Regions from separate parts of the Homo sapiens genome. Here regions 1, 2, 3 and 4 are each linked to region 5. Evidence: fine-mapped QTL for protein levels in blood plasma. A gene starts in region 5. Each other region holds a variant in brackets. All regions are shown on one strand. Distances are between the middles of the regions.

Region 1 (5,127 bases), 600 kb before region 5:
AAGTGTGTCCAAAGTTTCCTGAATTTTTGATTTTTTTTTCTTTAAGCTATCTATTTCCTTGAATATTTCTCCCTTCACTTCTTTTAGCATTTTTTGGATTTCCTTGCACTGGGATTTTCTCTGGTCCCTCCCTTATTAGCTCAATAACTAACCTCCTGAATTTTTTTTTTTTTTTTTTGGGTAAATCGGATTTCTTCTTGGTTTGGATCCATTGCTGGTGAACTAGTGTGATTTTTGGGGAGTATTGAAGAGCCTTGTTTCATCATATTACTGGGGTTGGTTTTCTGGTTCTTTCTCATTTTGGTAGCCTCTGTCAGAGGGAAGGTCTAGGGCTGAAGGCTGTTGTTCAGATTCTTTTGTCCCACAGGGTGATCCCTTGATATAGTACTCTCCCCATTTTCCTAAGGATGTGGCTTCCTAAGAGCTGAGCTGTAGTGATTGTTATCTCTCTTCTGGGTCCAGTCACCCAGCAAGTCTACCCGGCTCTGAGCTGGTACTGTGGTTTGTCTGCACAGAATCCTGTGATGTGAACCATCTATGGGTCTCTCACCAGTGCCTGTTCTGGTGGAGGTGGCAGAGGGTGCAACAGACTCCATGAGGGTCCTGAGCTTTGGTGGTTTAATGCTCTATTTTTGTGGTGGTTGGCCTCCTTCCAGGAGGCTGCACTTTCCAGAAAGCATCAGCTATAGTAGGCCCCAAGTAGGCCCCAGTGTCTGTTCTTCCCCGCTTTGTGTCCATTTGTTCTTATCATTTAGTTCCCACTTATAGGTGAAAACATGCCATATTTGGTTTTTTGCTCCTGCATTAGTTTGCTAAGGATAATGGTCTTCAGTTTCATTCATGATCCTGCAAAGGACATGATCTCATTCTTTTTTATGGCAGCATTGTATTCCATGGTGTACATATATCACATTTTCTTTGTCCAGTCTACCATTGATGAGCATTTAGGTTGATTCCATGTCTTTGCTATTGTGAATAGCGCTTCAAGGAACATACGCATCAGTGTCTTTATGGTAGAAAGATTTATATTCCTTTGGGTATATACTCAGTAATGGGATTGCTGTGTCAAATGGTAGTTCTGTTTTTAGCTCTTTGAGGAATTGCCGCACTGCTTTCCACAATGGCTGAACTAATATACACTCTCACCAAAAGTGTATAAGTGTTCCCATTTCTCCATAACCTCGCCAGCATCTGTTATTTTTTGATTTTTTAATAATAGCCATTCTGACTGGTGTGAGATGGTATCATGTTGTTTTTGCTTTTGTTTTTTTGAGATAGATCTCACTCTGTCACCCAGGCTGGAATGTAATGGCATGATCTTGGCTCACTGCAACCTCTGCCTCCTGAGTTCAAGCAATTCTCCTGTCTCAGCCTCCAGAGTAGCTGGGACTACAGGCGTGCACCACCATGCCCAGCTAATTTTTTGTATTTTTGGTAGAGATGGGGTTTCACTATGTTGGCCAGGCTGGTCTCGAACTCCTGACCTCAAGTGATCCACCCACCTCAGCCTCCCAAAGAGCTGGAATTACAGTGTGAGCCACTGCGCCTGGCCCTCATTGTGGTTTTGATTTGCATTTCTCCAGTGACAAATAATATTGAATTTTTTTCATCTGCTTGATGGCCAAATGTGTCTTCTTTTCAAAAGTTTCTGTTCATGTCCTCTGCCCACTTTTTAATGGGGTTGTTTTTTTCTTGTAAATTTGTTTAAGTTCCTTATAGATGCTAGATATTAGACCTTTGTTAGATGGATAGATTGCAAATATTTTCTTCCATTCTCTATGCTGTCTGTTCACTCTGTTGATAGTTTCTCTCGCTGTGCAGAAACTCTTTGGTTTAATTGGATCCCCTTTGTCAATTTTTGCTTTTGTTGTGATTGCCTTTGGCATCTTCATCAGGAAATCTTTGCCAGTTCCCATGTCCAGAATGGTGTTGCCTAGGTTGTATTCCAGGGTTTATATAGTTTTGGTTTTACATTTAAGTCTTTAATCCTTCTTGAGTTGATTTTTGTATATAGTGTAAGGAAAGGGTCCAGTTTCAATCTTCTATATATGGCTAGCCAGTTATCCGAGGACCATTTATTGAATAGGGAGTCCTTTCCCCATTGCTTATTTTTATCAGCTTTGTGAAATATCTGATGGTTGTAGGTGTATGGCATTATTTCTGGAATCTACTCTGTTCCATTGGTCTGTGTGTCTGTTTTTGTACCAGGTCCATGCTGTTTTGGTTACTGTAG[C/A]CCTACAATAGTGTTTGAAGTTGGGTAACGTGATGCCTCCAGCTTTGTTCTTTTTGTTTAGGACTGCTTTGGCCATTTGGGCTCTTTTTTAGTTTGATATGAATTTTAAAGTTTTTTTTTCTAGTTCTGTGAAAAATGTCATTGGTAGTTGGATAGGAATAGCATTGAATCTGTAAATTGCTTTGGGCAGTATGGCCATTTTAATCATACTGATTCTTTCAATTCTTGAGCATGGAATGTTTTTACATTTGTTTGTGTCATCTCTGATTTCTTCAAGCAGTGTTTTGTAATTCTCATTGTAGAGCTCTTTCACCTCCCTGGTTAGGTGTATTCCTAGGTATTTTATTTTTTGGTGGCAATTGTGAATGAGATTTCATTCCTGATGTGCCTCTCATCTTGGCTGTTGTTGGTGTATTGAAATGCTAGTGATTTTTGTGCATTGGTTTTGTATCCTGAAACTTTTCTGAAGTTGTTTATCAGCTAAGAGAGCTTTTAGGCCAAGACTATGGGGTTTTCTAGGCATAGAATTATGTCATCTGCAAACAGGGATAGTTTGACTTCCTGTCTTGCTATTGGGATGCCCTTTCTTTCTTTGCCTGATTGCTCTGGCCAGGACTTCCAATACCATCTTGAAGAAGGGTGGTGAGAGAGGGCTTTCTTGTCTTGTGCAAGTTTTCTAGGAGAATGCTTCCAGCTTTTGCCCATTCAGTATGATATTGGCTGTGAGTTGGTCATAGATTGTTTTATGTCTGATTGTGTGGTGGTCAGTTATAGAGTACATGCCACGTAGCAATGAGAAAAGTGTATATTCTGTTGTTTTGGGGTGGAGAGTTCTGTGGAGGTCTATCAGATCCATTTGGTCCAATATTGAGTTCAGGTCCTGAATATTTTTGTTTATTTTCTGCCTTGATGATCTTCTAATACTGTCAGTGGAATGTTGAAGTCTCCCACTATTATTGTGTGGGAGTCTAAGTCTCTTTGTAGGTCTCTAAGAACTTGCTTTATGAATCTGGATGCTCCTATGTTGGTTGCATATATATTTAGGATGGGTAGGTCTTCTAGTTAAATTGAACCCTTTACCATTATGTAATGCCCTTCTTTTTTATTTTTTTTACCTTTTTTGGCTTGAAGTCTGTTTTGTTTGATATTAGGGCTGCAACTGCTGCTTTTTTCTGATTTCCATTTGCTTGGTAGATTTTCCTCCATCCCTTTTTTTTTTTTTTTTTTTGAGCCAATGGGTGCTTGAGAAATGGTTGTCCAGGAGACAGAATACCATTGGCTCTTGCTTTTTTATCCAGCTTGACATCCTGTGCCTCTTAAATGAGGCATTTAGCCCATTTACATTCAAGGCTAGTATGTTAGCAAGTTGATATGTGTAGATTTGATCCTGTCATTGTGTTGTTAGCTGGTTATTATGCTGGCTTGTTTGTGTGGTTGCTTTATGGAGTCACTAGTCTAAGTACTTACATGTGTTTTTCTGTTTGCTGGTAATGGCCTCTCCTTTCCATATTTAGTGCTCCTTTCAGGATCTCTTTTAAGGCAGGTCTGGTGGTAATGAACTCTCTCAACATTTGCTTATATGCAAATGATCTTACTTCTTTGCAGAGGAAGCTTAGTTTGGCTGGATATTAAACCCTTGGTTGAAGATTTTTTTCTTTAAGAATGTTAAATACAGGCCCTCAATCTCTTCTGGCTTGTAGGATTTCTTCTGAGAGGTCCATTGTTAGCCTGGTGGGGTTCCCTTTGGAGGTGACCTGTGCTTTCCCTCTAGCTGCCTTAAATATTTTCTTTCATTTCTCTCTTGGGGAACCTGATGATTATGGGTCTTGGGGATAATCTTCTTGTGTAGAATCTTGCAGAGGTTCTCTGTATTTCCTGAATTTGACTGTTGGCCTCCCTAGCAAGGTTAGGGAAGTTTTCCTGGACAATATTCTCAAAAATGTTTTCCAAGTTGTTTGCTTTCTCCCCACCCCTTTCAGGGATTCCAGTGACCCATAGATTTGGCCTCTTTACATAATCTCATATTTCTGGGAGGTTTATTCATTTCTTTTTATTCTTTTTTCTTTATTTTTGTCTGACTGCTTTATTTCAGAGAATCAGTCTTCAAGTTCCAAGACTGTTTCTTCAGCTTGGTCTATTCTGCTGTTAATACTTGCCACTGCATTGTGAAATTATTGTAGTGTGTTTTTTCAGCTCTATCAGATCAGTTAGATTCTTTATTATACTGGCTATTTCATCTGTCAGCTCCTGTTTTATTGTGATTCTTGGTTTCATTAGATTGGGTTTTGCTGGTCTCCTCAATCTCAGTGATCTTTGTTCCTGTCATGTTCTAAAGTATACTTCTGCCATTTCAGCCTAGTTACAAACCCTTGCTGGAGAACTAAGTGTGGTTGATTGGAGGACATAAGATACTCCGGCCATTTGAGTTGTCAGAGTTCTTGTGTTGGTTCTTTCTCATCTTTGCATGTGGATGTTCCTTTAACTATGATGTAGATTGAATACACTCAGAAGACTTCTTTTCCGGATGTTTTCACAGGTCAAGGCTTTGTGCAGGGTCTTTATGTATAGCTGACTTATCTTTGGTTTGACTGGATTGTATGTTAGCAAGGTATTTTGGTGCTGAAGCTTTGGGGTGTGGTCCAGTTGGTGGTGCTTAGCGTACTGGCCAGTTAATAGACTCTTGCTCGGTTATGCGGTTTTTGTGTTTCCTCACAGTTGCAGCTGTGCTCTCTCTCAATGCTCTGAAAGTGTGAGCTCCTCTCCCACTTGAGTTCTGGCTGTAGATTGTCTTGGCACTCCTGGGCTGCCCACCACAGCTCTGGGGTGATCTCAGGGTTTATGTTGCCTCCTTAACTTGGAGGCAACTGATGAAGGGACCTTATTTGTAGTGGTCA
Region 2 (5,127 bases), 650 kb before region 5:
GTATTATGTTGGCTGTGACTTTGTCATAGATGGCTTTTAATATATTGAGGTATATCTCTTATATGCCAATTTTGCTGAGAGTTTTAATAGTAAAGTGATGCTGGATTTTGTCAAATGCTTTTTCTGCATCTATTGAGATGATCACATGGTTTTTGTTTTTAATTTTGTTTATGTGATGTATCACTTTTTTTTTTTTAGACAGAGTTTTGCTCTTGTTGCCCAGGCTGGAGTGCAATGGCCCAATCTTGGCTCACCGCAACCTCTGCCTCCTGGGTTCAAGCGATTCTCCTGCCTCAGCCTCCCGAGTAGCTGGGATTACAGGCATGTACCACCATGCCTGGCTAATTTTGTAATTTTTTTCTAGTAGAGATGAGGTTTCTCCATGTTGGTCAGGCTGGTCTCGAACTCTCAACCTCAGGTGATCCACCCACCTCGGCCTCCCAAAGTGCTGGGATTACAGGGGTGAGCCATCGCACCCAGCTGTGTCACATTTATTGACTTGCATATATTAAACCATCCCTGCATCCCTGGTATGAAACCCACTTGGTCATGGTGGATTATCTTTCTGATATGTTCTTGAATTTGGTTAGCTAGAATTTTGTTAAGGATTTTAGCATCTAATGTTCTTTATGGATATTGGTCTGTAGTTTTCTTTTTGATTATGTCCTTTCCTGGTTTTGGTATTAGGGAGATACTAGGTTCATAGAATGACTTAGGAAGGGTTCTCTCTTTCTCTGTCTTGTGGAATAGTGTCAAAAAGATTGTTACCAATTCTTCTTTGAATGTCTGGTAGAATTCTGCTGTGAATCCGTCTGGTCCTGGACCCTTTTTTTTGTTGGTAATTTTTAAATTACCATTTCAATCTTACTGCTTGTTATTGGTCTGTTCAGGACATCTAATTTTTCCTGATTTAAGCTAGGAGGGTTGTGTCTTTCCAGGAATTTATCCATCTCTTCTAGGTTTTCTAGTTTACGCATGCAAAGGTGTTCATAGTAGCCTTGAATGATCTTTCACATTTCTGTGGTGTCAGTTGTAATCTCTTCCGTTTCGTTTCTTACTGAGCTTATTTGGATTTTCTCTCTTCTTGGTTAATCTTGCTAATGGTATATCAATTTTATTTATCTTTTCAAAGAACTAGCTTTTTGTTTTATTTATCTTTTGTATTTTTTTGTTTTAATTTCATTTAGTTCTGCTCTGATCTTGGTTATTTCCTTCCTTTCTTCTGGGTTTGGGTTTGATTTGTTCTTGTTTCTCTTGTTCCTTGAGGTGTGACCTTAGATTGCCTGTGCTCTTTCAGATTTTTTGATGTAGGCATTTAGGACGATGAAATTTCCTCTTAGCATCACCTTTGCTGTGTCTCAGAGGTTTTGATAGGTTGTGTCACTATTGTCATTCAGTTCGAAGACTTTTTAAATTTTCATCTTGATTTCATTTTTGACCCAATGTTCATTCAAGAGCAGGTTATTTAATTTCCATGGTTTTGAAGGTTCCTTTTGAAGTTTATTTCCAGTTTTATTCCACTGTGGCCTGAGAGAGTGCTTGATATAATTTCAATTTTCTTAAATTTATTGAGGCTCATTTTGTGGCTATCATATGGTCTATCTTGGAGAAAGTTCCATGTGCTGTTGAATAGAATGTGTATTCTGCAGTTGTTGCATGGAATGTTCTGTATATATATGTTGAGTCCATTTGTTCCAGGGTGTAGTTTAAATCCATTGTTTCTTTGTTGGCTTTCTGTCTTAATGACCTGTCTAGTGCTGTCAGCGGAGTATTGAAGTTCCTCAGTGTTACTTTGTTGCTGTCTATCTCATTTCTTAGATCTATTAGTAATTGTTTCATAAATTTGGGACCTCCAGTGTTAGGTGAATGTATGTCTAGTATTGTGATAGTTTCCTGTTGGACAAAGCCTTTTATCATTATATAATGTCCCTCTTTGTGCTTTTTTTTATTATTATACTTTAAGTTCTGGGATACAAGTGCAGAATGTGAAGGTTTGTTACATAGGTATACACGTGCCATGGTGGTTTGCTGCACCCATCAACCCATCATCTACACTAGGTATTTCTCCTAATACATCCCTCCCCTAGCTCCCCACCCCCTAACAGGCCCCGTTGTGTGATGTTCCCCTCTCTGTGTCCATGTGTTCTCATTGTTCAACTCCCACTTATGAGTGAGAACATGTAATGTTTGGTTTTCTGTTCCTGTTAGTTTGCTGAGAATGATGGTTTCCAGCTTCATCCATATCCCTGCAAAGGACATGAACTCATCCTTTTTATGGCTGCACAGTATTCCATGGTGTACATGTGCCACATTTTCTTTATCCAGGCTATCATTGATGGCATTTGGGTTGGTTCTAGGTCTTTGCTATTGTGAACAGTGCTGCAATAAACATACGTGTGCATGTGTCTTTATGGTAGAATAATTTATAATGTTTTGGGTATATACCTAGTAATGGGATTGCTGGGTCAAATGGTATTTCTGGTTCTAGATCCTTGAGGAATTGCCACACCGTCTTCCACAATGGTTGAACTAATTTATGCTCCCACCAACGGTGTGAAAGCGTTCCTATTTCTCCACATCCTCTCCAGCATCTGTTGTTTCCTGACTTTTTAATGATCGCCATTCTAACTGGCATGAGGTGGTATCACATTGCGGTTTTGATTTGCATTTCTCTAATGACCCAGTGATGATGACCTTTTTTTCATATGTTTGTCAGCTGCATAAATGTCTTCTTTTGAGGAGTGCCTGTTTACATTCTTTGCCCACTTTTTGATGTGGTCGTTTGTTTTTTTCTTGCAAATTTGTTTAAGTTTTTTGTAGATTCTGGATATTAGCCCTTTGTCAGATGGATAGATTGCAAAAATTTTCTCCCATTCTGTAGGTTGCCTGTTCACTATGATGATAGTTTCTTTTGCTGTGCAGAAGCTCTTTAGTTTAATTAGATCTCATTTGTCAATTTTCGCTTTTGTTGCCATTGCTTTTGGTGATTTAGTCATGAAGTCTTTGCCCATGCCTGTGTCCTGAATGATATTGCCTAGGACTTCTTCCAGGGTTTTTATGGTTTTAGGTATTGGGTTTAAGTCTTTAATCCATCTTGAGTTACTTTTTGTATAAGGTGTAAGGAAGGGGTCCAGTTTCAGTTTTCTGCTTATGGCTAGCCAGTTT[T/C]CTCAACACCATTTATTAAAGAGGGAATCCTTTCCCCATTGCTTGTTTTTGTCAGATTTGTCAAAGATCAGATGGTTGTAGATGTGTGACATTATTTCTGAGGCCTCTGTTCTGTTCCATTGGTCTATATATCTGTTTTGGTAGCAGTACCATGCTGTTTTGCTTACTGTAGCAATTGTAGTATAGTTTGAAGTTGGGCAGCTTGATGCCTCCAGTTTTGTTCTTTTTGCTTAAGATTGTCTTGGCTATACGGGCTCTTTTTTGGTTCCATATGAAATTTAAAGTAGTTTTTTCTAATTCTGTGAAGAAAGTCAACAGTAGCTTGATGGGGATAGCATTGAAACTATAAATTACTTTGGGCAGGATGGCCGTTTTCATGATATTGATTCTTCCTATCCATGAGCATGGAATGTTTTTCCATTCATTTGTGTCCTCTCTTATTTCCTTGAGCAGTGGTTTGTAGTTCTCCTTGAAGAGGTCCTTCACATCCCTTGTAAGTTATATCCCTAGGTATTTTATTCTCTTTGTAGCAGTTGTGATTGGAAGTTCACTCATGATTTTGCTCTCTGTTTGCCTGTTGTCAGTGTGTAGAAATGCTTGTGATTTCTGCATATTGATTTTGTGTCCTGAGACTTTGCTGAATTTGCTTTTCAGCTTAGGGATATTTTGGGCTGAGACAATGGGTTTTTTGAAATATACAATTATGTCATCTGCAAACAGAAACAGTTTGACTCCCTCTCTTCCTATTTGAATACGCTTTATTTCTTTTGCATGATTGCCCTGGCCGGAACTTCCAACACTATGTTGAATAGGGGTGGTGAGAGAGCATCCTTGTCTTGTGCTGGTTTTCAAAGGGAATGCTTCCAGCTTTTGCCCATTCAGTATGACATTGGCTGTGGGTTTGTCATAAATAACTCTTATTATTTTGAGATATGTTCCATCAATACCTAGTTTATTGAGAGTTTTTAGCATGAAGGGGTGTTGGGTTTTAACGAAGGCTTTTTCTGCATCTCTTGAGATAATCATGTGGTTTTTGTCATTGATTCTGTTTATGTGATGGATTACGATTATTGATTTGTGTATGTTGAACCAGCCTTGCATCCCAGGTATAAAGCTGACTTGATCGTGGTGGTTAAGCTTTTTGATGTGCTGCTGGATTTGGTTTGCCAGTATCTTATTGAGGATTTTAGCCTCAATGTTCATCAGGGATATTGGCCTGACATTTTCTTTTTTTGTTGTGTCTCTGCCGGGTTTTGGTATCAGGATGATGCTGGCCTCATAAAATGAGTTAAGGAGGATTCCTTCTTTCTGTTTTGTTTGTAATAGTTTCAGAAGTAATGGCACCAGCTCCTCTTTGTACCTCTGGTGGAATTCGGCTGTAAATCCGTCTGGTCCTGGGCTTTTTTTTTTTTATTGGTAGACTATTAATTACTGCCTCAATTTCAGTACTTGTTATTGGTCTATTCAGGGATTTGACTTCTTCTTGGTTTAATCTTGGGAGGGTGTATGTGTCCAGGAATTTATCCATTTCTTCTAGATTTTTGAGTTTATTTGCATAGAGGTGTTTATAGTATTCTCAGATGGTAATTTGTATTTCTGTGGGATCAGTGGTGATATCCCCTTTATCATTTTTTATTGTGTTTTGATTCTTCTCTCTTTTCTTCTTTATTAGTCTGGCTAGCCATCTATCTATTTTGTTAATTTTTTCAAAAAACCAGCACCTGGAATAATTGACTTTTTGAAGGGTTTTTTTATGTCTCTATCTCCCTCAGTTTTACTCTGCTCTTAGTTATTTCTTGTCTTCTGCTAGCTTTTGAATTTGTTTGCTCTCACTTCTCTAAATTTCTACTCTGATCTTAGTTCTTTTAATTGTGATGTTAGGGTGTCTATTTCATATCTTTCCCGCTTCCTCCTGTGAGCATTTAGTGCTATAAATTTCCCTCTAAACACTGTTTTAGCTGT
Region 3 (5,127 bases), 480 kb after region 5:
AGACCCCAAGCCTCAGCTCCCTCCCTATAAAATGGCCTCCCAGTGGATTAAAAAGTACACATATAAAGCACTTGGTGCCAAGCATAGCAGATGCTCAGGGCACCTCAGAAGTTAACTGGGTTACTTATGAAAGAGGGTTTGCTGGAGCAGCCTGCTTGCCGCTCACCAGCATCCCTCTCATATCTGTTCCCATGGAGGTAGGGACAATGCTGAGGACTGGCTGGGCGAGGACAGAGGCTCCCGGGGTGGTGTGGGCGTCTGGTGGCAGCAACAGGGCTGCTGCAGGAGCATGTAGTGTGTGTCAAGTGGTAGTGGCACAGCTGCTCAGAGGGAACTGCCTGCCCGGCACTTCACTCTCATGCCCTGGCACTTCACTTTCATCATGAACTCATTCGTGCCTGTGCGCTGGATCTGCCATCATCCACATATGAGTTGAGCTCCCTTCCTTTGCCAGCCCTGGGTGAGGCACCAGGGGTAGGAGGGTGGGACAGGGAAATGACCAGGGCATCTCCCAGGCTTTCTGGAGCTCTCAGACCTCCCGCTTCTGTTTGGGCTGGCTGCCTCGTGTTCCTGCTATGAATTGTCATGCATGAGTGTTTCTGCCCCTTCATTTATGGGGTCCCCAGGCACTCCACTCCCACCCCATGACATCCCATTTTTCTGAGTCTCACAGCTTCTGCATTTTAGTTCACTTCTTTACGTTTGTGAGGTACATTCTCTGGAAGTTTCCTGGCAGAGGTACATGGAAGGTAAAGTTTTCAGACCCTGAACATCTAATGATATCTTTTTTCTACTCTTACATTTGATCAATATTTTGACTAGATATGTACTTCCATATGGAGATAGTTTTCCCTCCAACATTTGAAGTTTACTTCTGTATTCTTCCGGTGTTGCTGTGACAATATCTAGTCCCTAGGGGGTGGACTTCTTTTCCCCCAGAAGTTTTAGGATCTTTTGTTTATCCTGTAGGCATTTTTCAAAATTGCCAGTGCTGTGCTTTCTATGGTATTTTTTTCACGCATTATGTGGATATGTGGTATCAGTTCCTTCAGCTGGTAAACATATGCTCTTCCATTCTGGGGATTTACAAAAATTCGTTATAATAATTTCCTCCCTATTGTTTTCTCTTCCTAGAATTTCTACTAATACGAAGTTAATCAACTAACTCTTTTCGTCTCCTTCCTTCCTTCCTTTTCTTTTACTCCAATTCTCCTTCCCCTACCTCCAGCTAACTTCCTGGGAGATTTTTTCAACTTTATCCTCCAATCCTACTGAATTTTTATTAAACAGCTTAAATTATTTAAAACATTTTTCTTAAGAGATGGGGTCTCACTTGTTGCCCAGGCTGGTCTCAAGAGATCCTCCTACCTCAGCCTTCAGAAGCTCTGGGATTATAAGTGTGAGCCACCGCACCTGGCTAAACAGTTTAAATTCTAAAAGCTCTTTCTTTTTCTTAGACTAGTTCTTTCTTTCCATCAAATTGATTTTGTTTCTGTTTTTGTCTTTTTGAGACAGTCTTGCTCTGTCGCCCAGGCCGGAGTGCAGTGGCACAAACTTGGCTCACTGCAACCTCTACCTCCTGGGTTCAAGTGATTCTTGTGCCTCAGCCTCCCGAGTAGCTGGGATTACAGGACTGCCACCATGCCTGGCTAATTTTTGTATTTTTGGTAGAGATGGGGTTTCACCATGTTGGCCAAGCTGGTCTCGAACTCTTAGCCTCAAGTGATCCTTCTGCCTCGGCCTCCCAAAGTGCTGGGATTACAGGTATGAGCCACCACATCTGGCCTCAAAAAGGCTAACAATCTTTGACTATCTCTTCCTGTCTGGGGATGAGGCATTAAAAAGCTGCTCAGAAGTTCCAGCAGAAGGGGCTACTCCTAAGAGACACAGGACCAGAAAATACAGACTCAAAAGTAGGCCTTGGTGCGCTGGGGCTGCCCCTCATCCTCCACTGGGCCTTTGCATCTGTTCTAGGCTCACAGAGAGAGCAGAATGGGAAACGGGGACCATTCCAGGTGGTGTATGGAGGGTTGCATTTGCTCTGTGCACTGCCCAGTGTGATGTTCCTCAGCCTTACTGTAGGTCATCCAGGTGGTAGAATTATTCTGGTTTATACAGATGCTGAATTATTCTATTTGGCGGGAGCCTTGCCACCCTGGGCTTCAGGGAGACCCTCTCCCAGGGCCCCCTGGGTTTTTCCCATTCTAGCAGGCTTGCTGAATGCGTTTGGATTCACATTCTTCCCCAACAACTGCTGTCACAGCTCTGGATTGGCTACCGCAATGAGAAGGTAAAGCAACACTTTGTGTCTCACGACCTGAGGGCCCAGCAGGTGTGGCCGGCAGCCAAATCCCGACATCTGCACTTCCTCCAGGCTCCTGCCCCTCCCCACGGTGTGCCCAGCAGTCTCCTTTCCTCAGTGGATGCTGTTCATGTCCTTGCCATGGCTGCCAAGCCAGCCAAGAGGTAACATGTTGGTCCTCGGGCCACAGAAGCCCTCTTCTGTC[C/G]CTCCAGGAGGATTACTTTGTTAAGAGCCTGGAGTGGCTGTTTGTTAACTACCATAGTAACCATAGCAGTCTGGCTCTGAACAAGGGAACCCCATTAGCATCAGCTCCTTGATGGATGAGGTGGAGAGCAGGGGACAGGGAAGAGGATGTTGCTGAGAAGTTTGAAGAAGTTAGTCATTAGGAGTCTTGGTGACTGTCCCGTGCCCTCTCTGCCCTTCTGTCTCCCCTAATGTGTTCACTAATACCCACCTTTTCTGTCTCTTGGGGTCACTCTAATGTCCATGGTGACACTTGTTATTATCTATTGCCAGGGGACCCACAATGTGAGGACCATGAGGGAGGGGAGTTAGATCTTCCTGCCCCATGGTTGACAGTCCACCTCAACCATGGGGCAGAGCAGCCCCTCAAGGGGCTGAGCAGCACCATCTGTCTCAGACATCATCCAGGGTGTACCAGCAGGCACCCTAGAGAAGGAAGGGGGCCAGCTACAAGAGTCAAAAGCAACATGATTCAGTATGCAGCACAATCATTTTAAGAATCCTGATTCTGGGCTGGGCGAGGTGGCTCACGCCTGTAATCCCAGCACTTTGGGAGGCTGAGGCAGGTGGATCACTTGATGTCAGGAGTTGCAGACCAGCTTGGCCAACATGGCGAAACCCCATGTCTATCTAAAAACACAAAAATTAGCTGGGCATGGTGGTGGGCACCTGTAATCCCAGCTACTTGGGAGGCTGAGGTAGGAGAATCACTTGAATCCGTGGGATGGAGGTTGCAGTGAGCCAAGATCATGCCACTGCACTCCAGCCTGGGTGACAGAGTGAGACTCCATCTCAAAAAAGGAAAGAAAGAAAGGAAGGAAGGAAGGAAGGAAGGAAGGAAGGAAGGAAGGAAGGAAGGAAGGAAGAAAGAAAGAAAGAAAGAGAAAGAAAGAAAGAGAAAGAAAAGAAAAGAAAGAAAGAAAGAAAGAAAGAAAGAAAGAAAGAAAGAAAGAAAGAAAAGAAAAGAATCCTGTTCTGGGACAGCTCAACAGCCCTGAGGCCACCACCTGCTCTTTGCCATAGTGTGAACTCATCCCTGACACAGAGCCCAGTCCCCTGGGGCCCTGCTCACGGGGTCTAGCCAGAATGCTCTCCACAGCTCGAAATGGAACGGCCTAGCAGTTGGAGATGCCAGACGTGAGTTATTGAACACATCTGCCGAGACCAGAGACCAGGACACGACATTTGTATCTACCAAATGAGTGCTGGCAGCTAGCTCTGCTCCCCTGGAACATCCTCTCAAAACCCTTTTGCCTTGACTATTATCTCATCTCTCTCCTGGCCTGCACTGATCCTTGGCCGACTCTAAGAAGTCACCCGTGGGGGCCTGGGGCAAGACAGGTCATGGTTCTGGGCACCAGCACTGCCATCTGGCTGCTTCTTCTGGCCTCTCTTTGCTGGACTAGTGCCTGGCCCAATATCATGCCATCATGATCACGCTCAACTCGAGGGATATCATTTACTCCTTCAAGGGCAAGATTCTAGACCCCTCACTGCAGAGCCCTTCACTGGGGACACCCGGTCTTCTTTGCCTGCTTGGACATTGAGGGTGGAGGGAGGAAGGGGTTGTGGGCATCCATAGAAGCTGTGGGGGGCATCCAGAAATAAGGGAGAGAGGCATCTTCACTGCTGGCGGTGTGCGGGACCAATTCCAGGGATTGTCTGACTGCGCTCCCCCCCACCACCCCATAGGTAGCAGGGTCTGCTGGGCTTGGATGCCAGTGGGAAGAATGCGTTCTTCGAGAGTGAGTGGACCCTCCTCTGGGCTCACTGGAGGGGACGGGTCTGGAGCAGGCAGAGTGAGCCGCTGCTTGCGGGATCCGGGATGGAGCTCAGGAATGGAGCTCCACACTCTCCCAGCTGCCTGGCCCGGGACAAGCATTGGCCCTTTCTGGGCCTCCTCAGGAATCTCCAACCTCCGAGGCGATTCTAGTTTAAGCCTGATGAGGCAGACGTGCATCCGGGCGGATGATTAGCCGGTGTGGGCGCGGCCTGGAGCGGGCCCAGGCTGGGGAGTGGCGGCTGCACGCGGTGACGACTGTGTGTTCGCTGAGTCAGGGCCCGGAGCGCTTCAGCACCGCGGCTTGGACAGCGCCCCGGGGCAAGCGGGTGGCGCTCTCCCTACAGGGACAAATGACCCCAGGGCCGGCATTTCTGACCTAGAGAACGGGCCTGGATTGCTCTGGCGGGTTCTGAGCCTGGGGTTGGGGGCGGGTGGGGAGCGGACGAAGTGGGGGCGGCCTTTGGAGACGATGGCAATTTACCGCCTTAGGCGGGCAAGCGCACGAGTCCCGGGAACCCTAAACAGGTTGGGGTGCCCCTTGGGGTCTAGATGAGGCCCGGGCTTGCGATAAAGCGTGGCGGCGTCTAGACATAACGTCCCATCTCCTGAACCCGTCAAGGCCGGTGGCACCCAACCTGGCGGGCTCATCTAGGACCAGTCCACACCCAAGGCCCCAAGACCCAAAACCTCCTGGGCTGGGTCTGCCTGGCTAGGGGCCCCTCATCCTGGGCTCTACTCTTTTGGCGCAGAGGCCATGTGGCAGGCCCCTGGTCTGCGCCCTGCTCAGCTTCCCCTCCCC
Region 4 (5,127 bases), 680 kb before region 5:
GTTGGAGAGGATGAGGAAAAAAGAAAACTCTTGTACACTGTTGGAGGAAATGTAAATTAGTACAGTCATTGATATGGTTTGGCTGTGTCCCCATCCAAATCTGAGCTTGAATTGTATCTCCCGGAATTCCCACATGTTATGGGAGGGACCCAGGGAGAGGTAGTTTAATGATGGAGGCCGTCTTTTCCCATGCTATTCTCATGATAGTGAATAAGTCTCATGAGATCTGATGGGATTATCAGGGGTTTCCTCATTTGCTTCTAGCTCATTTTCTCTTGCCACCACCATGTAAGAAGTGCCTTCACTTCCCGCCATGATTCTGAGATTTCCCCAGCCATGTGGAACTGTCCCAATAAACCTCCTTTTCTTCCCAGTCTTGGGTATGTCTTTATCAGCAGCATGAAAACAGACTAATATAGTAAATTGTTACCAGTAGAGGGGTATTGCTGAAAAGATACCAGAAAATGTGAAAGTGATTTTGGAGCTGGGTAACAGGCAGAAGTTGGAACAGTTTGGAAGCCCCAGAGGAAGACAGGAAAATGTGGGAAAGTTTGGAACTTCCTAGAGACTTGTTGAATGGCTTTGACCAAAATGCTGATAGTGATATGGACAATAAGGTCTAGGCTGAGGTGGTCTCAGATGGAGATGAGGAGCTTGTTGGGAACTGGAGTAAAGGTGGATCTTGTTATGTTTTAGCAAAGAGGCTGGTGGCATTTTGCCCCTGCCCTAGAAATTTGTAAAACTTTGAACTTGAGAAAGATGATTTAGGGTATCTGGTGGAAGAAATTTCTAAGCAGCAAAGCATTCAAGAGGTGACTTGTTAAAGGCATTCAATTTCATAACAGAAGCAGAGCATAAAAGTTTGGAAAGTTTGCAACCTGACTATGCAATAGAAAAGAAAACCCCATTTTCTGGGGAGAAATTCAAGCCAGCTGCAGAAATTTGCATAAGCAGTGAGGAGCCTACTGTTAATCCCCAAGACCATGGGGAAAATGTCTTTAGGCCATGTCAGAGACCTTCACAGCAGCCCCTCCCATCACAGGTCTGGAGGCCCAGGAGGAAAAAGTAGTTTCCTGGGCTGGACAGAGGATCCCTGTGCTGTGTGCAGCCTAGGGACTTTGACAGAACAGGAGCATCACCATCTTGGACAAACACCACCATTCTAAAGTTCCCCTTAATCAAAAACCACCTAAATCCACAGGGCATCAGCCTAAAGGCTAAGGCCAGCATGACCATAAACCATAAATGACATCTCTGACCAGAAACATTTCAACCATAAGATAAACCCCTCCCCAGAGAGATGTCAGCCCCAAGACAACCTCCCCTCCTACCAGAGACATTCCAAACCCACAATAAACTTCTTCCCCACAAAGAAACATTCCAAGCCTATGATAAGCTCTCTCACCCTAAAATCAACAAATACGCTTAATCTGTAAGAGAGTGTGCTCCTGACCAAAATCAGCCAGAAGCCCCTCTCAGGTTTATTCTCCAAAATAAACCTGTCTTTGACTGGTGAGTCACTTTTCGTGTTTCTTTCCTCTTTCTTTAACTCTTACATTTGCTGCCAAAACTCAGGATGGGTGCTGGGGGTAGAGGTTCTCCTGCAACCCAAAAAGCAGTGGACAGCAGCTGCTCATCCTGCTGGATCCTGAGAGTCTCTGGCCACCCATCTTGTCTTGTCTCTCACTTCACTTTTCTAGCAATTTGTCTGAGGAGGACAACTAACCTGAAGGGGACTGTGAGGCTCAGGCTGGGGCAAATCTCCAGTGAACCCTCAAAGCCCTCAGGTCTTAGGAATCCACCTCTGGCTGCCCACAATGGGTATTTTGCTCTCTTCCCTCCTCCCTCATCCTCTTCTCTCTCTCTCTCTCTCTCTCTCTCTCTCTCTGTCTCTCTCTCCCTCTCTTCCTTGTGAAGCTCTAGTCCAAGGGGCCCTTTGCCAATTCCAATCAGAACATCCAACATCGGACACTAATCCAGCTGACTAGTAAGATCTGCCCTCTCCTGACTTTCTCACAGCACCTGGGAGAGTCAGGTCAGCTGTCCCGGTCCTCAGAGGACCAGTGGGACTAAGCTAGAAGAAATCTTGGAGATGCCCAGTTTCTTCGCAGCTTGATCATCCTCTTTATAAAGAGGATTCCAGGTTTCTGTCTTTTATCTGTGGATGCCTAGAACAAAAACAGACACCTTCAGCTTCCTCTTACCAGTCCACATGGGTGCCAAACAATCCCACTTTCCTAAGTCCTCTCCATTGGGCTGTCTCCTTCACAATGTTGCTAAGCTTGGCTTAAAGGAAGCATAAAGCCAAAGAGTATGCTTTTTTATTGCAACATGGCCTGGCCCCAATACAAATTAGATAATGACAGCTGGTAGCCTGAAAATGGCACCTTTGACTTTCAAATTCTCAGGGACCTTGACAACTTTATAACTAGGAACAGCAAATGGCAGGAGGTTCCCTATATTCAGGCTTTCTTTTACTTTAGATCCCAACCCTCCCTGTGTCAAACTTGCACCCCTCATGAAGTCTTTCTTCTTAATGATAAC[C/A]TTCCCCAGGTCTCTCCTTTCTCTGAAACTCCTTCCTCCAAAACCCCTTTGACCCTGCAGATGAACCCCCTCCATATTCTTATCCCCCTGCATCTGCTCCTCAACCTATCTGAATCCTCCACTTCAGTGACGCCTCCTGCCCGCAAGCTTTCAGCTCCAAACCCTGCTCCTTCTCCTTCTCCATCTGTTACCCATTCAAAAACTGCTCCAACCAGTCAAACCACCCTGCCATTCTCCGTCTCCAGGAAGTGGCTGCGGTTGAAGGCATTGCTCCCATTCATGCCCTTTCTCCACATCTGATTTGTCGCAGATCAAACAGTGCCTGGGATCTTTCTCTGAAAATCCCCCTGACTAGTGCAGGGAATTCCTGCACATAACCCAATCCTTTAATTTAACATGGCATATTTATATAATTCTAACCTCCACCCTCACCCCTGATGAAAAACAGCTCTCAATTTAATTAAAATGAATATTCAAGCTATGAGTATATTCAAAAGGCCTTTATGTTTTTCTCTTCATAAATCTTGTTTTCCTGGAAAAGGTTTTTTTCCCCAGTCAACTGAATTACTTTTCTCCACTCTGTCTTACCACTCTTGGTGCATATATGAAAAATCCCAAAATGACTTCTGGTGGCCTGGGACTCCTTGGGAAAACAGAAAAGCTGCCACAAATCCCGTTTTGGGAAAAAATCTGTTTTCCTTATGGAACCCCTGGAATTAAAGATGAATAAGTACCTCTCAAAATCTGTCTTTGTCTTCCAGCTATGCTTGTTTATTAGGCCCTGGAAACTGTTTTCATAGCCCTGTTCTTAAAGGGTCTCACCCAAAGGCCAGTGATCCAATTGGGAAAGGGGCAAAAAAAAAAAAAATTCTAATTACTGGATCTTCTTCTGGTTGTCTGTGTGGCTATGTATGTGTTATGTGTGCAATGCCTATTTAAAAAGCTCTAATTAATTGACCTAAGAAAAATAAGCACTTAAATCAAATATTTTTAACAGAAAAGTAAAAGCTGTGGGACCTTTCAGTTCATGTGACTTTAATCTTTAAAACTTACTAGTACAGTAAGATTAGAAATGTCTTAAAAGTTTCCAGCATACATTTTTGTTTGCATTTATTAATCAAGCAATTTCATAGTTATCTCTGCCAAATACTATAAGATGTGAAAATTTTGCATAGAGGCCACAAAACTATAACTCAGCCCAAACAGAATAATCTTTGCTTCTGTAATTTTTTAATCAATGAAACATTAATATTGGTTTAATAAAGATAGCTACATCTTGAACTATTTAGTGAAATACCCTAACTTCTAATCTTGATATTAAAGAAAAAAGAATTTATGGCCAGGCACAGTGGCTCACGCTTGTAATCCCAGCACTTTGGGAGGCCGAGGCAGGTGGATCACGAGGTCAGGAGATTGAGACCATCCTGGCTAACATGGTGAAACCCCGTCTCTACTAAAAATACAAAAAATTAGCCAGGTGTGGTGGCAGGTGCCCATAGTCCCAGCTACTCGGGAGGCTGAGGCAGGAGAATGGCATGAACCCAGGAGGCAGAGATTGCAGTGAGCTGAGATCGCGCCACTGCACTCCAGCCTGGGTGACAGAGCAAGACTCTGTCTCAAAAAAAAAAAAAGAAAAGGAAAATTTATATAAAAAAGAATCTTATATGGTAAATTCTTGTCCTAAAGTAAATTAACTGGTTGTTTAAGGAGAGGGATGTTTACAAGTCAGAAAGTCAAGGCATGTCAGAGATTGTCTGTGTAAGTCATGAAAAATTTTATAAAAGGGAGAGTATGGACAAGATGGATGAATAGGAACAGCTCTAGTCTGCAGCTCCCAGTGAGATCAGAGCAGAAGTCAGGTGATTTCTGCATTTCCAACTGAGGTACATGGCTCATCTCACTGGGACTGGTTGGACAGTGGGTGCAGCCCATGGAGGGTAAGCCAAAGCAGGATGGGGCGTTGCCTCTTCTGGGAAGCACAAGGGGTCAGGGAACTCCCACCCCTAGCCAAGGGAAGCCATGAGGGACTGGGCCATGAGGAATGGTACATTCTGGCCCAGATACTATGCTATTCCCATGGTCTTTGCAACCTTCAGACCAAGAAATTCCTTCGGGTGCCTACACCACCATGGCCCTGGATTTCAAGCACAAAACCAGGCAGCCATTTGGGCAGACATTGAGCTAGCTGCAGGAGTTTTTTTCATACCCCAGTGGCACCTGGAACCCAGCAAGATAGAACCATTCACTTCCCTGGAAAGGGGGCTGAAGCCAGGGAGCCAAGGGGTCTAGCTCAGCAGATCCCACCCCCCATGGAGCCCAGCAAGCTAAGATCCACTGCCTTGAAATTCTCTCTGCCAGCACAGCAGTCTAAAGTTGACCTGGGATGTGTGAGCTTGGTGGGGGGAGGGGGGTCCACCACTACTCAGGTTTAAGTAGGTGGTTTTCCCCTCACAGTGTAAACAAAGCCTCTGGGAAATTGAACTTGGTGGAGCCCACTGCAGCTCAGCAAAGCTACCGTAGCTAGACTGCCTCTCTAGATTCCTCATCTCTGGGCAGGGCATCTCTGAAAGAAAGGCAGCAGCC
Region 5 (5,000 bases):
AAGTTAGAGCAGGAGGAAAAAGTATATGATTTAGGCTTTGGGGTCAGACAGCTTGGGTTGGAATTTTGACTTGATTTGAATTTTGACTTGAATCATGGGCAAATTTCTTAATCTCCCTAGGTTTCAGTTTCCTCATCTATTAAGTGGGGGTAAATGATACTTACTTGTATCCTAGGATCATGGTTAGAATTCGGTGAGAAAATGATTGGAAAGCCCTTAACTCAGAGCCTGGCACACAGAAAGGCTCAATCAGTGCTTATTATAATTAAGAGCCAATGGTAGTAATGACTGCTCTTCTTGCCTTGGAAATGGCGCTTCCCCCCATCTCTTTGATGTATGCAGGATACTGGACTTGATTGGTTATTGTCACTGTGTTTCCTTTGAGCTGTCCTGACTACCCATCAATTGGGGATACTACACAAGAGGTCAGTCCAGAGATCTCTCCCAGCCCCCAAACCTTCAGAGTGCAAATCTTTTTGTAGCTTGACCCCTTTGCCTCCAGTGAGTGGCAAAGCTTGGGACATCTTGAGAGCACCATCTTGCTGATCCATGCTTTGGGTGGGCCATTTTCTCTTTCTTGAAGCCTGAACCCACTGCACTGGCCTGATTGACTCTCCCAAAGAGCACTGTTCCCCCCTCCCACACAGTCCCTCTGTAAGTGATGCTCATATCACTGGTTCTCAAAGCAAAGTTTACAAAGACCAGGGTCATCCTGAGAGTATGTGGGCAGATTACATGGTGCACTTGACCCTTGCTCCTTTGTGTTTACACAGGCAGAGTCAGGCCAGACTACATGCCAGGGTGACCTTAAGAGAGAAAAGAGGCCAGGCATGGTGGCTCATACCTGTAATCCTAGCACTTTGGGAGGCCGAGGTGGGCAGATCACGAGGTCAGGAGTTTGAGACCAGCCTGACCAACATGGTGAAACCCCGTCTCTACTAAAAATACAAAAATTAGCTGGGCGTGGTGGTGTGTGCCTGTGATCCCAGCTACTCAGGAGGCTGAGGCAGGAGAATCACTTGAACTCGGGAGGCGGAGGTTGTGGTGAGCCGAGATCGCGACACTGCGCTCCAACCTGGGCAACAAGAGCGAAACTCCATCACAAACAAAACAAAACAAAACAAAACACAACAAGCAAACAAACAAAAAAACAAAAGCGAAAAGAATGGCTGGGGCAGCCTAGGGCAGGTACACGTCTTTGTCCTCCCCACCCCCGTCACCAGGTCCTCGTAAACAATGATAGAGGGAGGAGATACGGAGGGGCAAAACAAACCCCCTCCTCCATAGGCCCCAATTCTCCCTTTCCCCACAGCTCCAAAACCTTTCAACCCCTTTCCTCTTTTCTGCAGATTTTATTTAGTCATAGGCTGGGGGATGGAGAAGGGGACCATAGATTCCCAAGCAGCCATTCCACTGGGACTCATTTTGGTTGTCTGATAGTCCCAGCAACCTGTGCCAGCCATGTTGAGGAAGGGCTCTCTCGGTTCAGACTCCCAATTCCTGGACTTAGACCCACATGATTGTTTGAACCTTCCTTCCTCTCGCCACTCATTCTTCCAGGGCACCTGCCACTTTTCTTTCTCATCCGCGTGCCTCCCCCTCCCTTTCATTGCATGCACTTCTTGTTGCATTTTCTGCTGCTTTCTTGGCCTCTCCTCCTGAATGATCATTCCTGCTCACCACGCTTGGGACTCCTGAGGAAATGGTGACCCAGTTTCCTGGAACTACTTACCCCAGAAAGATCCGGACCAACCCCAGCTCTACTTACAAAGGGGAGAATTGGAGGTCAGAAGCTATGCATGAAGGTGGGGAGAGCCCACAGGGTCTTATGAGGCCAGAGACCCGACAGCGCCCTTGGCACTACCTCCCTGCCAGCTGCTCCATCCCCCTTTCTCGTTCCTGCCCTACAGAGACAAGTGGACTCACTTGGCTGGCTGCGAGAAGCCGAAGTAATGATAAGGATGAGGACAAGGAGAGACAGGGCAGCCTCGGAGACCTTCATCCTCTCAGCGAGGCAGTACAGCTTCAGGGAGAGCCGAATGAAGATGTTGTCTGTTGCTGGTGGTCCGCTTGCCAACTACTCAGCTCTCTGGACCTTGACCGCATCAGAGCCGGTAGAGGAGGAGAAACAACAGGCCTCAGTGTTTGCTGAAACAGAGGGCAGCAGAGGATGGGACTTGGTGCAGAGCTGAATTCAGTAGAATCTGAATTCACGTGAAGAAATGGGCGAATGTGTGTCAGCTACCTTACATGCCCTATCTTATATAATCCTTAAAATAGTGAATAGCGATTATTACTTCCCTGGGACTACTGAGGCCTAGAGGCTAAATAAATTGTCCAAGGTCACCTGGGTGGATAGGCGGATGAAAAACCAGATCTGTTTGATTTCACCATGTTACCTGCCACCATCTGTATGTTGGGGAAGGGCAGGCAGGGTTGAACCACCCCAGCTTCCCCCAGGTGATCAGTCTTGGGGAGATGAGCACAAAGCAGGATTACAGAGCCCAGACTGAGGCAAAGGTAGGGCTTAGTTGCCTCTGAGAAGGAAATGCCCTCTCCCAGTCCAAGGCCACATGATTGAGCTCACACTCTTTCCTGTCACAGTGTATGCTAATACTCCAAAAAAAAAAAAAAACAATGTGCCTGATCCTTGGGTCCCCATTTGTTGCTGGACCGTTTGACTTATTTGTCAATGTTTTTATTTATCTCTTTGGACCTCGGACTTTGGACTGATTTTTAGGTGTAGCCAGCTCGCTGATCCCTCCTGGGTGCCCCCATGGCCAACCATGACCAGCAGGGGACCCTCCAACTCTGTGCACCTGACAACCTGCGTCTGTGCTCCAGGACTCCAGCTTCTGCCCCTCTGGCCTGGGCTCTGGCTGGACCTGTCCCACAGCTTCCTCTCTCTTCAGGTGCCTCAGGACCCTTTTCCATGTTGAAAGCTGCATTTAGAGAAGAGATCAAAGATATAAGGGATTTTGCTGTTGATGGACAGCAAGCTTTAGAGGCATAGGTGATGTGTTTCAGGTGTTGAGGGCAGTGGGAGGCAGGGGCAGAAACAGGGACTGTGCAGATCCTTATGGGGCTTTCTGCTTGGCATGACTGCTCATAGATAGGTAAACCGTATAATGCAGTTACTCCTGGTGGGTTCAAGGCTTCACCTGGTGGTGAAGCTGTGGCTTTTTGTGAGGGCAGGGAGGGTACGTATGTGGGGCATCCTCTTGACCTCTGTTTATGGAGGTGACAAGGCCTGAGAAGCCTGGTTGTGACTTTGGCATGCAGGCCCCCATATGGCCCTTAATGTGGCCCACAAGCCCTTCCTTATCTGTGGAAGGCTGGAGGCCAGGAAAGGGTGGTCATAATCCCTACTCTGGGCAAGCTCTTATTCCAAGTACACAGAGCTCCTCCTTGGGCCCTGAAGATAGGTTTGAGAGCTTATTCTTGGAGCATAGTCCTCCTCTTGATTTCTGTCTTATTCCATCTGTCCCTCTATCCCTCCCTCCCTCTTTCTCTCCATCCATCCATCCATCCCTCCCTCCCTTCCTCCCTCCCTTCCTCCCTTCCTCCCTCCCTTCATCCCTCCCTGCTTCCCTCCCTCCATCCATTCCTCCTTCCCTTCATCCTTCCATCCACACATTCTTCCCTTCCTTCATCCATCCATCCATCCATCCATTTCCTGAACACCTGGTATGGGCTAGGCTTTCTGCTAAGCCTTCTAGGGGATAAAAAAGTTAGTAAAACAATATAGTATAATCTGATGTGTGTAAGCGAAGGGGAGGGGTTGGATAAAATGTCTTCATGCATCATTCCTATTCCAGACAGCAGTGAAGAAAGGCCTTGAAAACAGCACAGAAAAAAGGACTATGGAGTTTGACTGCTATAGAGAGCCCTTTATGAAGTGTTACCTAAAAAATCAAATGATGATTTGTAGCTTTTACACTTGTCATGAAGCTTAAATAAGATAATGCATACAGACTGCCTAGCAGAGTGCTTGGAGTATAGAAAGCATTAAGAAAACGGGGTCTGCTACTGTTGTTGCTGAGGAGGAGACGGTCTTTACACTGCTTTTCTTTCTCACTTTCTGCTTCTCACTACCTGCATTGCAGGCCTGACCTATTTTTTGTACCAGGCTCCAGCAAAACTTCTGCAGAGCGAGGCTTGATGCCGAGGGTGCCACACCCTGGTGTCCTCAGTGCATGGCCAATGAGTAAATCCCGTAGAAAGGAATGAGGCCAGGGAAGAGCATGAGTGGTCTTTAATTCAAAGCAGGGAAGCTCCAAGAGGGTGACTGGGGCTGAGAGTTAGCGGTGGGTGGAGGAGGGGGCCTTGGCATCTTCTCTTTATGTCTCTGAGCTGTGCCTTCGCCACCCCTTCTGGGTCACTCAGTTCTCCTTCATGTCCTTGATATAGTCCTGGACCCACTTGTCACTGGGGTTGGTACAGACGGAATGGCCCCTTTTGGTGATGAAGCTGTGGAGCAAGAGGGAGAAGGATCACAAACCGAGGGGCCCAGTGGCCGGAAGAGACAGCCCATCTTCCCTCCCTCCTAAATTCCCCACCTGACCTATACTGCTTTTCCTTTCTTCCACAGAGGCAGCTTAGAGCCAGTCTCCTCTCTGAGACATACTCTTCGGTTCCTAGGACCCCTAGACCCATCTAGTCTCTGTGTCCCCCTGAGGAAGTGCCCTCTTGCCTTCTTCTCCCTTCTCTGTCATCTCCCCATCCATGGGGTCAGTTTCCCCATGGCTCCTGCAGGCTCCAGCCAGAAAGCGCTCAGATTGCCCCTCAGCTGCCTCTCCCCATGTAGTCACACCTGGGAGGTACGCTGGGGGTCCCCATTCCACCACCACTCCCTGCTTCCCTCCAGGAGGCCCTGCTGGCTCCCTCTCCCCCCAGTGTGATGTGTGTGTACCACCTACACAATTCCGGGCTTGGAGCACTGGCTGTTGGTCTCATAGTAATCCATAATCCGCTGACGCGGGATCTTGTAGGTAGTGTAG

Direction of the effects. Alleles are on the strand shown, and positions count from the first base shown. The strength of an association depends on the size of the effect and on how common the allele is.
For the plasma level of the protein whose gene starts at base 2,079 in region 5, A is the low allele of the variant in region 1 and C is the other (weak association).
For the plasma level of the protein whose gene starts at base 2,079 in region 5, allele T in region 2 goes with a higher level than allele C (weak association).
For the plasma level of the protein whose gene starts at base 2,079 in region 5, allele C in region 3 goes with a higher level than allele G (weak association).
In carriers of allele A in region 4, the plasma level of the protein whose gene starts at base 2,079 in region 5 tends to be lower than with C alone (weak association).

The links. PIP is the chance, under the fine-mapping model, that this variant and not a neighbour inherited with it causes the effect. Protein levels are from antibody-based Olink assays in UK Biobank. Linkage for the fine-mapping came from a reference panel and not from the study's own genotypes, which makes the PIPs less certain.
Region 1: its variant is fine-mapped to the plasma level of the CCL16 protein (UK Biobank, PIP above 0.99).
Region 2: its variant is fine-mapped to the plasma level of the CCL16 protein (UK Biobank, PIP above 0.99).
Region 3: its variant is fine-mapped to the plasma level of the CCL16 protein (UK Biobank, PIP above 0.99).
Region 4: its variant is fine-mapped to the plasma level of the CCL16 protein (UK Biobank, PIP above 0.99).

Annotation. Positions count from the first base shown.
Region 1 is chr17:35,384,070-35,389,196 of GRCh38, forward strand. No RefSeq gene overlaps it. Among named protein-coding and RNA genes, the nearest start is that of SLFN11, 13 kb to the left of the region's middle. The variant C/A (reference allele first, on the strand shown) is at 2,234.
Region 2 is chr17:35,325,970-35,331,096 of GRCh38, forward strand. No RefSeq gene overlaps it. Among named protein-coding and RNA genes, the nearest start is that of SLFN11, 45 kb to the right of the region's middle. The variant T/C (reference allele first, on the strand shown) is at 3,166.
Region 3 is chr17:36,459,539-36,464,665 of GRCh38, forward strand. No RefSeq gene overlaps it. Among named protein-coding and RNA genes, the nearest start is that of TBC1D3F, 23 kb to the left of the region's middle. The variant C/G (reference allele first, on the strand shown) is at 2,508.
Region 4 is chr17:35,296,518-35,301,644 of GRCh38, forward strand. No RefSeq gene overlaps it. Among named protein-coding and RNA genes, the nearest start is that of SLFN5, 56 kb to the left of the region's middle. The variant C/A (reference allele first, on the strand shown) is at 2,545.
Region 5 is chr17:35,979,419-35,984,418 of GRCh38, forward strand. CCL16 (C-C motif chemokine ligand 16) reads right to left here and starts at 2,079. Exons shown (of 3, transcript NM_004590.4): 1 at 1,927-2,079. The coding sequence starts at 2,002. CCL14 (C-C motif chemokine ligand 14) reads right to left here. Exons shown (of 3, transcript NM_032963.4): 2 at 4,920-5,000; 3 at 3,870-4,470. The coding sequence ends at 4,383. It overlaps CCL15-CCL14 (CCL15-CCL14 readthrough (NMD candidate)), which reads right to left. Exons shown (of 7, transcript NR_027922.3): 6 at 4,920-5,000; 7 at 4,238-4,470. RefSeq lists an enhancer at 2,594-2,889 and a silencer at 2,594-2,889.